Linked DNA regions of Homo sapiens: region 2 is linked to region 1. Evidence: fine-mapped expression QTL. Tissue or cell type: testis. Region 1 holds a variant in brackets; the other region holds the start of a gene. All regions are shown on one strand. Distances are from middle to middle.

Evidence for each region. PIP is the estimated chance that this variant, and not a neighbour inherited with it, causes the effect.
Region 2: it holds the start of TXNDC8, and the variant in region 1 is fine-mapped to the expression of TXNDC8 in testis (GTEx, PIP above 0.99).

Annotation. Positions count from the first base shown.
Region 1 is chr9:110,302,133-110,306,372 of GRCh38, reverse strand. TXNDC8 (thioredoxin domain containing 8) reads left to right here. Exons shown (of 6, transcript NM_001424031.1): 5 at 1,841-1,906; 6 at 2,790-2,897. The coding sequence ends at 2,852. All of the region lies in intron 1 of LOC124902246 (a long non-coding RNA gene), which reads right to left. Among named protein-coding and RNA genes, the nearest start is that of TXNDC8, 34 kb to the left of the region's middle. The variant A/G (reference allele first, on the strand shown) is at 2,428.
Region 2 is chr9:110,335,926-110,340,165 of GRCh38, reverse strand. TXNDC8 (thioredoxin domain containing 8) reads left to right here and starts at 2,303. Exons shown (of 6, transcript NM_001424031.1): 1 at 2,303-2,393. The coding sequence starts at 2,370. LOC124902245 (a long non-coding RNA gene) reads right to left here and starts at 3,962. Exons shown (of 2, transcript XR_007061728.1): 1 at 1,929-3,962; 2 at 1,524-1,641.

The sequences.
Region 1 (4,240 bases):
AAGAGACAAGTTATATAGCCATTGCTAAAGTCAGGTGAAAGCTGACCAAGGTAAAACATATGGAATTTGGTAGCAAACTTGTCCCCTAAAGCCACCAGAATTGTTAACATGAAAAAGACTGGCAATATCAAGTGTTGTCAAGGATGCAGAGCTAGAGCTAGAACACTCATCCTCTGCTGGTAGAGTATAAATTGAAAATATATGCAGGCCAGGCATGGTGGCTCACACCTGTAATCCCAGCACCTTGGGAGGCTGAGATGAGCAGATCACTGGAGGTCAGAAGTTTGAGACCAGCCTAGCCAACATGGTGAAAGCCCGTTTCTGCTAAAATTTTAAAAATTAACCAGGAGTGGTGGTGGGAGGCAGAGGTGGGAGAATCGCTTGAAGCCGGGAGGCAGAGATTGCAGTGAGCTGAGGTTGCAGTGAGCTGAGGTTCCAGTGAGCTGAGATTGCGGCACTCCAAAGTCGGTGACAGAGAAAGACTCTGTCAAAAAAAGAAAAGAAAAGAAAAGAAAAAGAAAGAAAAGAAAAGAAAGGAAAAGAAAGGAAAGGAAAGGAAAGGAAAGAAAAGAAAAGAAAAGAAAGAAAAGAAAAGAAAAGAAAAGAAAGGGAAGGGAAGGGAAGGAAGGGAAGAAAGAAACAGGAAAGAAAGAAAGAAAAAGAAGGAAAGATATAAAGAGGAGAAAGAAAGAGAGTAAGAAAGAGAAAGAAAGAAAGAAGAAAATAGAAAGAAAGAAAAAGAAAGGAAGGAAGGAAGAAAAAGAAAGAAAGAAAGAAAGAAAGAAAGAAAGAAAGAAAGAAAGAAAGAAAGAAAGAAAGAAAGAAAAAGAAAATACATGCAGTATAATTTCAAAAACTGTGGGGTAGCTTCTACTGAAGCAGAACCCACAATCCCACTTCTAGCTATACAACAGAAATCAGTGCTTATGTGCTCACAAAGATATCCCTACAAAGATATGGACAAGAACATCCACAGTAGCACTATTTGTCACAGCAAAAATGGATAAACTGTGTTACATTCATGCAATGGAATACCAAAGAAACACTGAAAAATGACTGTAGTGACACTCTCCAGGTAAGTCTCATAAACATCATGTTGAGTGGAAGATGCCAGACACAGAAGAATACATATCGTAGAATTCCATCTTTCTTTTTTTCTATTTTTTAAAAACAATTACATTTGAATCAGTGCACCATATTCCTTTTTTTTTTTTTTTTTTTTTTTGAGACAGAATCTCTCTCTGTCACCCAGGCTGGAATGCAGTGGCTTGATCGTGGCTCACTGCAACCTCCACCTCCTGGGTTCAAGTGATTCTCGTGCCTCCGCCTCCCATGTAGCTGGAATTACAGGTGCACACCACCACGCCTGGCTAATTTTTGTATTTTTGGTAGAGATGGGGTTTTGCCATGTTGGCCAGACTGGTTTCAAACTCCTGATCTCAAGTGACCCACCCACCTCAGCCTCCCGAGGTGCTCAGATTACAGGCATGAGCCACTGCACCCGGCCATCCATCTTTAAAAGTCCAAAAACAGGCAAAATGAATTTATTATGTTTCCTGCCAAGTCTGGTCATTCAGGTAGCCAAGCCTTGCCTATGTTTCCACCAGACGTTCTTATCTTTGCACGAGTTCTGACCTCAGATTTTGCAGAGGATCATGAACCTCCCTTCATGCCAAAGAGCCACCACCCAGCTGCCACCTAACTCTTAGCAAAGAGAAACTTTTGCAGATCCTTTCTGACACCTTCCTTCCCTGGCCAAGGCCAAAAGAACCAGTTATAGGGGAGATGGTTACAAACCAGGCAACTCAGATAAATTATGAAATTCTGCACCCACACTTAGGTAACCCTATTCTCAAGAATCAAAAGAATAATTTGCTGTTATAGAAGTGGATTCATGAGCAACCTGGTAAGTGAAATGGGATCAAGTTAGAGTTAGAAATCTGGGGTTTACTTTGAAGGAATAAATATAATGACACACTCAGGCAGAATGCTGCTGCCTGGAGAAGCAGAAGCCTTTGGTGTGGGGATGGTTTCTCCCTGCAGCACACCGGGCAGTAAAGTTAGTTCTAGACTTTTCTAGCCCCTGCCCCAAAGTCCTAACACCATTCCTGGTGGCTCAACCGCCCCTTTACTGGGAACTCAAGTTTTCACCCAATCCCAACCTCACACTCTTCCTTGTCTTCAACCATGTAATATATTTTGAATTCCATCTTTGAATTCCATCTTTCTTCAAAAAAGATGCATTATTTTATATACCACTAAGAAGTGTTCCAAGTGAAATATAACATACCATCCACTATGAAATGCATTCTGATTCAGAGATGTAAACATTTGAAAGGAACATGTGCTTCTTAGAATCAATGAATTATAATACTCTTACCTGGGGAGAAGTCAGGGAATGACAAATCCCAAGCCATTTGATTTCAG[A/G]AGATTGTGTATATTAATTGACAAATCCTCGATACCAATGTATAAGAGCTCTGAGAAGTTCCAATGATGGAGTTTGTTTATTTCCGAGATTATTATACGTTTTAGATCTTAGATTAAAGGTATATTATGGAGAATTATAGAGATCTGGCAAAGTTTTTAGCAAAAGTAATTTTGAAAGGATGCCAAATATGAAAATATTATGAATTTAATGTGTTTAATGTATATTTATATTTAAAGTGTCTTGCAGATGATGGAAATGAGTAGGATTTAACTTTTCAATCAGGAATAAAATTCCTTAAAGCCTCAACATTTTCGCAGCACTTGAATCAATAAATGTTTCACCTTTGTGCATTTGTGAACAGATTTTTGAGTTTTGTGGAGCCGATGCTAAAAAATTGGAAGCCAAGACTCAAGAATTAATGTAAGCTGATCTCCAAGGCAAAATACACTTGTGACATTTGAAAAGGCAAGAGCAAATGTGTTTGTGCTTTCATTTCCAGCAAATACTGTAGTGTTCCACTGGTCTCTCTCCTAATGCTTTGCTGGTTGAATACCATAATGCAATCTCACTGCACAATTGCTAAAAACTGTTGCAATATGAGAGATTGCATCATTTCCATTCTCCAACTTGGGCTTCCCACTTGCTCTGAGCACACTCCTTGGGCAGTGTTTTTATGACCTTCACAAGAGAGGTCCTGCACAGCTAAGTATTACCAGGTCATCAAGATTTTCCAGAGATTAGCAAAGATCCAATTCTTCCCAGTGGTCAAGGAACAAATAAATGTCTTAGTGCCCTCGTGCACTTTGAACATATGAAAGCCTCCCCCGATTAAGCCATTTCTTATGGTACAAAATTCTTCTCCAATGCATCATTTTTTTTTTTTGAGACAGTCTTGCTCTGTTGCCCAGCCTGGAGTGCAGTGGCATGATCTCGGCTCACTGAAACCTCTGCCTACCAGGTTCAAGCTATTCTCCCACCTCAGCCACCTGCGTAGCTAGGATTATAGGCAGGCGTCATCACAACTGGCTAATTTTTGTGTTTTTAGTAGAAACAGGGGTTCACTATGTTGTCCAGGCTGGTCTCAAACTCCTGCCCTCAAGTGATCCTCCTGCCTCGGCCTCCCAAAGTTCTGGGATTACAGGCATGAGCCACCATGCCCAGCCATCATTTTATGTTTGAACTGTGTCATTTTTCTCTCTCTCTCACTCCCTTTCTAAAGTCCTCCTATAAACACAGACGTGTACACACACAGACCCACACACATACAAACCAGAAAGTCCTTTTACTGCCTATTGAAAAAAAAAAAAAAACTGAGCTAACTCAGACATTTAGAGCCCAGAGGAGATGGCTTCTTCTGTACCGTACTAATTGTGTCTATGCTGAGGCTGCACCAGATAAACACTGGAGTCTTAAGTCATAGACAGAGTGGAGCTGGCTTTCCTAGGCATTAATAACTGAGATTTTGACAAAGCATAGGCTCCATATGCTTTTTTAGAATTCTTTGGAGTAGGCAGAGCATAGTGGCTCACGCCTGTAATCTTAAAACTTTGGGAGGTCAAGGCAGGTGGATTGCTTGAGCCCAGGAGTTTGAGACCAGCCTGGGCAACATGGTGAAACCCTGTCTCTACAAAAAATAGACAAATTAGCCAGGCATGGTGGCTTGCATCTGTAGTCCCAGCTGCTTGAGAGGCTGAGGTGGGAGGATCACTTGAGCCCAGGAGTTTGAGACCAGCATGGGCAACATAGCTAGACTCTGTCTCTATAAAAAAGAAAAAAAAAATACAAAAATTAGCCAGACATGGTAGTTCATGC
Region 2 (4,240 bases), 34 kb before region 1:
AGCTTCTGCACAGCAAAAGAAACTATCATCAGAGTGAACAGGCAACCTACAGAATGGGAGAAAATTTTTGCAATCTACTCATCTGACAAAGGGCTAATATCCAGAATCTACAATGAACTCAAACAAATTTACAAGAAAAAAACAACCCTATCAACAAGTGGGCGAAGGATATGAACAGATACTTCTCAAAAGAAGACATTTATGCAGCCAAAAGACACATGAAAAAATGCTCATCATCACTGGCCATCAGAAAAATGCAAATCAAAACCACAATGAGATACCATCTCACACCAGTTAGAACGGCGATCATTAAAAAGTCAGGAGACAACAGGTGCTGGAGAGGATGTGGAGAAATAGGAACACTTTTGGGCTGTTGGTGGGACTGTAAACTAGTTCAACCATTGTGGAAGTCAGTGTGGCGATTCCTCAGGGATCTAGAACTAGAAATACCATTTGACCCAGCAATCCCATTACTGGGTATATACCCAAAGGATTATAAATCATGCTGCTATAAAGACACATGCACATGTATGTTTATTGCGGCACTATTCACAATAGCAAAGACTTGGAACCAACCCAAATGTCCAACAATGATAGACTGGATTAAGAAAATGTGGCACATATACACCATGAAATACTATGCAGCCATAAAAAAGGATGAGTTCATGTCCTTTGTAGGGACATGGATGAAGCTGGAAAGCATCATTCTCAGCAAACTATCACGAGGACAAAAAACCAAACACCGCATGTTCTCACTCATAGGTGGGAATTGAACAATGAGAACACATGGACACAGGAAGGGGAACATCACACACCGGGGCCTGTTGTGGGGTGGGGGGAGGGAGGAGGGATAGCATTTGGAGATATACCTAATGTTAAATGACGAGTTACTGGGTGCAGCACACCAACATGGCACATGTATACATTTGTAACTAACCTGCACATTGTGCACATGTACCCTAAAACTTAAACTATAATAAAAAAAATTTTTTTGTTAATACGTGTATTAGTCTCTTTTCACGTTGCTGATAAAGACATACCCAAGTCTAGGTAATTTATAAAGAAAAAGAGGTTTAATAGATTCACAGTTCCATGTGGCTGGGGAGGCCTCACAATTCTGGCAGAAGGTGAAAGTCACGTCTTACATGGCAGCAGGCAAGAGAGAATGAGAGCCAAGCAAATGGGGAAACGTCTTATAAAACCATCAGATCTCATGAGATGTATTCACTACCATGAGAACAGTATGGAAGAACTGCCCCCATTATTCAATTATCTCCCACCGGTCCCTCCCACAACCCTTGGGAATTATGGGAGCTACAATTCAAGATGAGATTTGAGTGGGGACACAGCCAAACCATATCAATACATAATACTTCTACGTATTTATGGGGTACATGTGATATTTTGTTACATGCATACTTCAAATACCTCTACAGAGGCAGCCACTGTCTCCATCTGACAGTTTTCATGCAACACATGATTGAAGGCCCAGAGCTGCATATATAGAAAAACAGAAAGAAGGATTTTGCTATTTTTGTTTTATTATAGAATCTACTATTTCTCATTTTGGTTGTTCTTGTTGCTCTGTAGATTTGAAGAACATTGGCCATGGTCATGTTCAGAATTTTTCTGACATCAGTTCTGAAAATGGCAAATCATCAAGTGCAGGGGTCAGCAAACTGCTGCTGTTCTTTGTACATCCTACTAGCTGCGAATGGTTTTTACATTTTTTAAAGGTTGCAAAAACATAAGGAACATGCAACAAAGACTGTATGAGGCCCATAAAACTAAAATAGTATCTGTTCCCTTAGAGAAAACATTTGCCAACCCTTGATCTAGAGCATAAAAGTGACATTTCTTTACTCTCTAAATAATTAGAGCAAAATAACAAAGTTCAGGGAATTTATGACTCATGAAATCAAACTTACAGGAAACTCATTATTATAGGGTTAAGACTTTAGTATTTTTCTCAACAGCAAAATCTTCAAATTCTTAAGTGAAAATCTCATCTATTTAATATTACTCTGCTTACTTCTCATTTGGTGATGGGATGGAGGGATTAGAGAAGGGAGAAGGATATTTAGAAATAGGTTATAAAAGATGAAAATAAAGCAAACACATTACTGATTCTGCATATAAAGCCCTCAGTTTTCTGATTCTTGGCTGTCCACAAATGAACTAGTCATGGCATAAAAGTGAAATAGGATCCAAAGTCTGCCAAAGTTCCAGGTTCTGAGATGACATGTTTAATGATGTCATAGAGAAGTTATCCATGTATTCCAGGCAGGATACTGTAATAAATAGGAGACAGCTACAGTGATCCAACTAAACCAACAGGGGATTTTCATCAGCACTTCCCTGGTGTAATCATGGTACAGATTATTAAAGACACGGCAAGTATTTATTTGGCTTCACTGAGTATTTCAAATGTGGACATCTTGGGAACAGATTTGAAAAACTTTAAGAATGTGTTCTCTCTATCCAGTATTCTATCATTGCATTGTAGCAAGGGGAGAGTTCTAAATTCTTGTTCTTTATCTTGTTCCTTGAGGGATGGTACTATCAAGAAAAGCAGCCAAGGGTCAAATTGATAAAGAAGGGCTTTCTTCCTCCTGGACTTTTATTTCCTGCCTGACTTCAGGTGAATCCCAGACCAGCTCCTAGTACATCCCATCCTGTATCTGATCCCATGGATCGTACCTCAGTTGTGCTTGGAAAATTCCATGGAAGTAAGGAAGTCCACATCTTTTCTCTTATCCAAGGAAAAATAATAGAAACCCCAGATGTGGAATGGGGTGGGAAAATTGGGAACAGCCCAATGTTGCTGTCACAACAAATCTAAATTCATGTATAGGACAGAGATAATTCTTGATTTATAAAGGAGAAAATTGCCTCTAAAAGAGAGGTTCAGGGCTAGTTCGTTTAAGAGGTGGTGTGGGCATTAGAACCCAGACCTTCTGATGCCTGCCCTCATTACAAGAAGTCAAGAGCTGGAGGAGGGGAGGGGGTTTGGGGCCTGAGCCTCATGTCCACCAGCAGCCTCAGATTTAGACTTGTGACATTTTCCCCAAAGGTGGCTATACAGATCACAAAAATGACACTGACCAGATTGAAAGAGAGTACTGCCCTGTAACTTCGACATAAGAACATGTTTTGAAACATCACACATTTGCTAATGCTTTTGACACTTATTGTTTTAATATTCTGGGGATGTCACAGAATAGCCTGGAGCCTTATTCCCTCAGAAGACCTTTCATCTCCTCCCCAGGGACCTTTCCAGAGGCCCTGATCTCCATCCCATCTTTATTCAGATGCCACCTTCTCTTTGAGGTTGACCTTGGCCATCCAGACTACAGTTGTAATCCAACCCCCATTCTTCCTTCCTACTTCATTTTCTTTTTATTTTCTTTATTAGCAATTAGCACTAATATACTACAAATATTACCTATTGACCTTATAGTAAGCTTCCCATTCTAAAATGTAAACTCCATGGAGACAGAATGCCTAGTTTTTGTTTTGTTTTGTTTTGTTTTTGTCCACAGTGGTATCCTAGCAGTTTGTGCAGTAGCTGGCATAGTATAGGCCTCAATACGCATATGTTAAATAAATACCTATACTATGAGAGTATTCCCTTCAGATAGTTTAGTCAAGTCAAGTTCATGGGTCCAATTAGGCCAGCTCACACCCAAACAACAACTACTGGAAAGTGAAGAGTGTTGGGAGTTTGTGAGGATAGCATCTACCTTACAACTTCAGAAGCAAGTGAGAAATAAAGGCTTGGCAAGGTTCTCTGAAAAGTTAGTTACTCCCTCCCAGAGGAATATTGATAAAGAAAGAGAGTGCATCTTCTTTGAGTCATCACTTTCACCTGATTGAAACTAAACAAAGTAGCCACATAATTGTCAAGGCTATTATAGAGCAGGCATGTTGTATTAGTCTATTTGCATACTGCTATGAAGAAATGCCCAATACTTGGTAATTTATAAAGAAAAAAAGATCTAATGAACTCACGGTTCCACATGGCTGGGAAGACCTCACAATCATGGTGAAGGCGAAGGAGGGGCAAAGGCATGTCTGACATGGCGGCAGGCAAGACAGCGTGTGCAGGGGAACTGCCCTTTATAAAACCGTCAGATATTTTTAGACTGACTCACTGTCATGAGAACAGCATGGGAAAAACCCACCCCCATAATTCATTTACCTCCCACTAGGTCTCTCCCATGACATGTGGGGATTATGG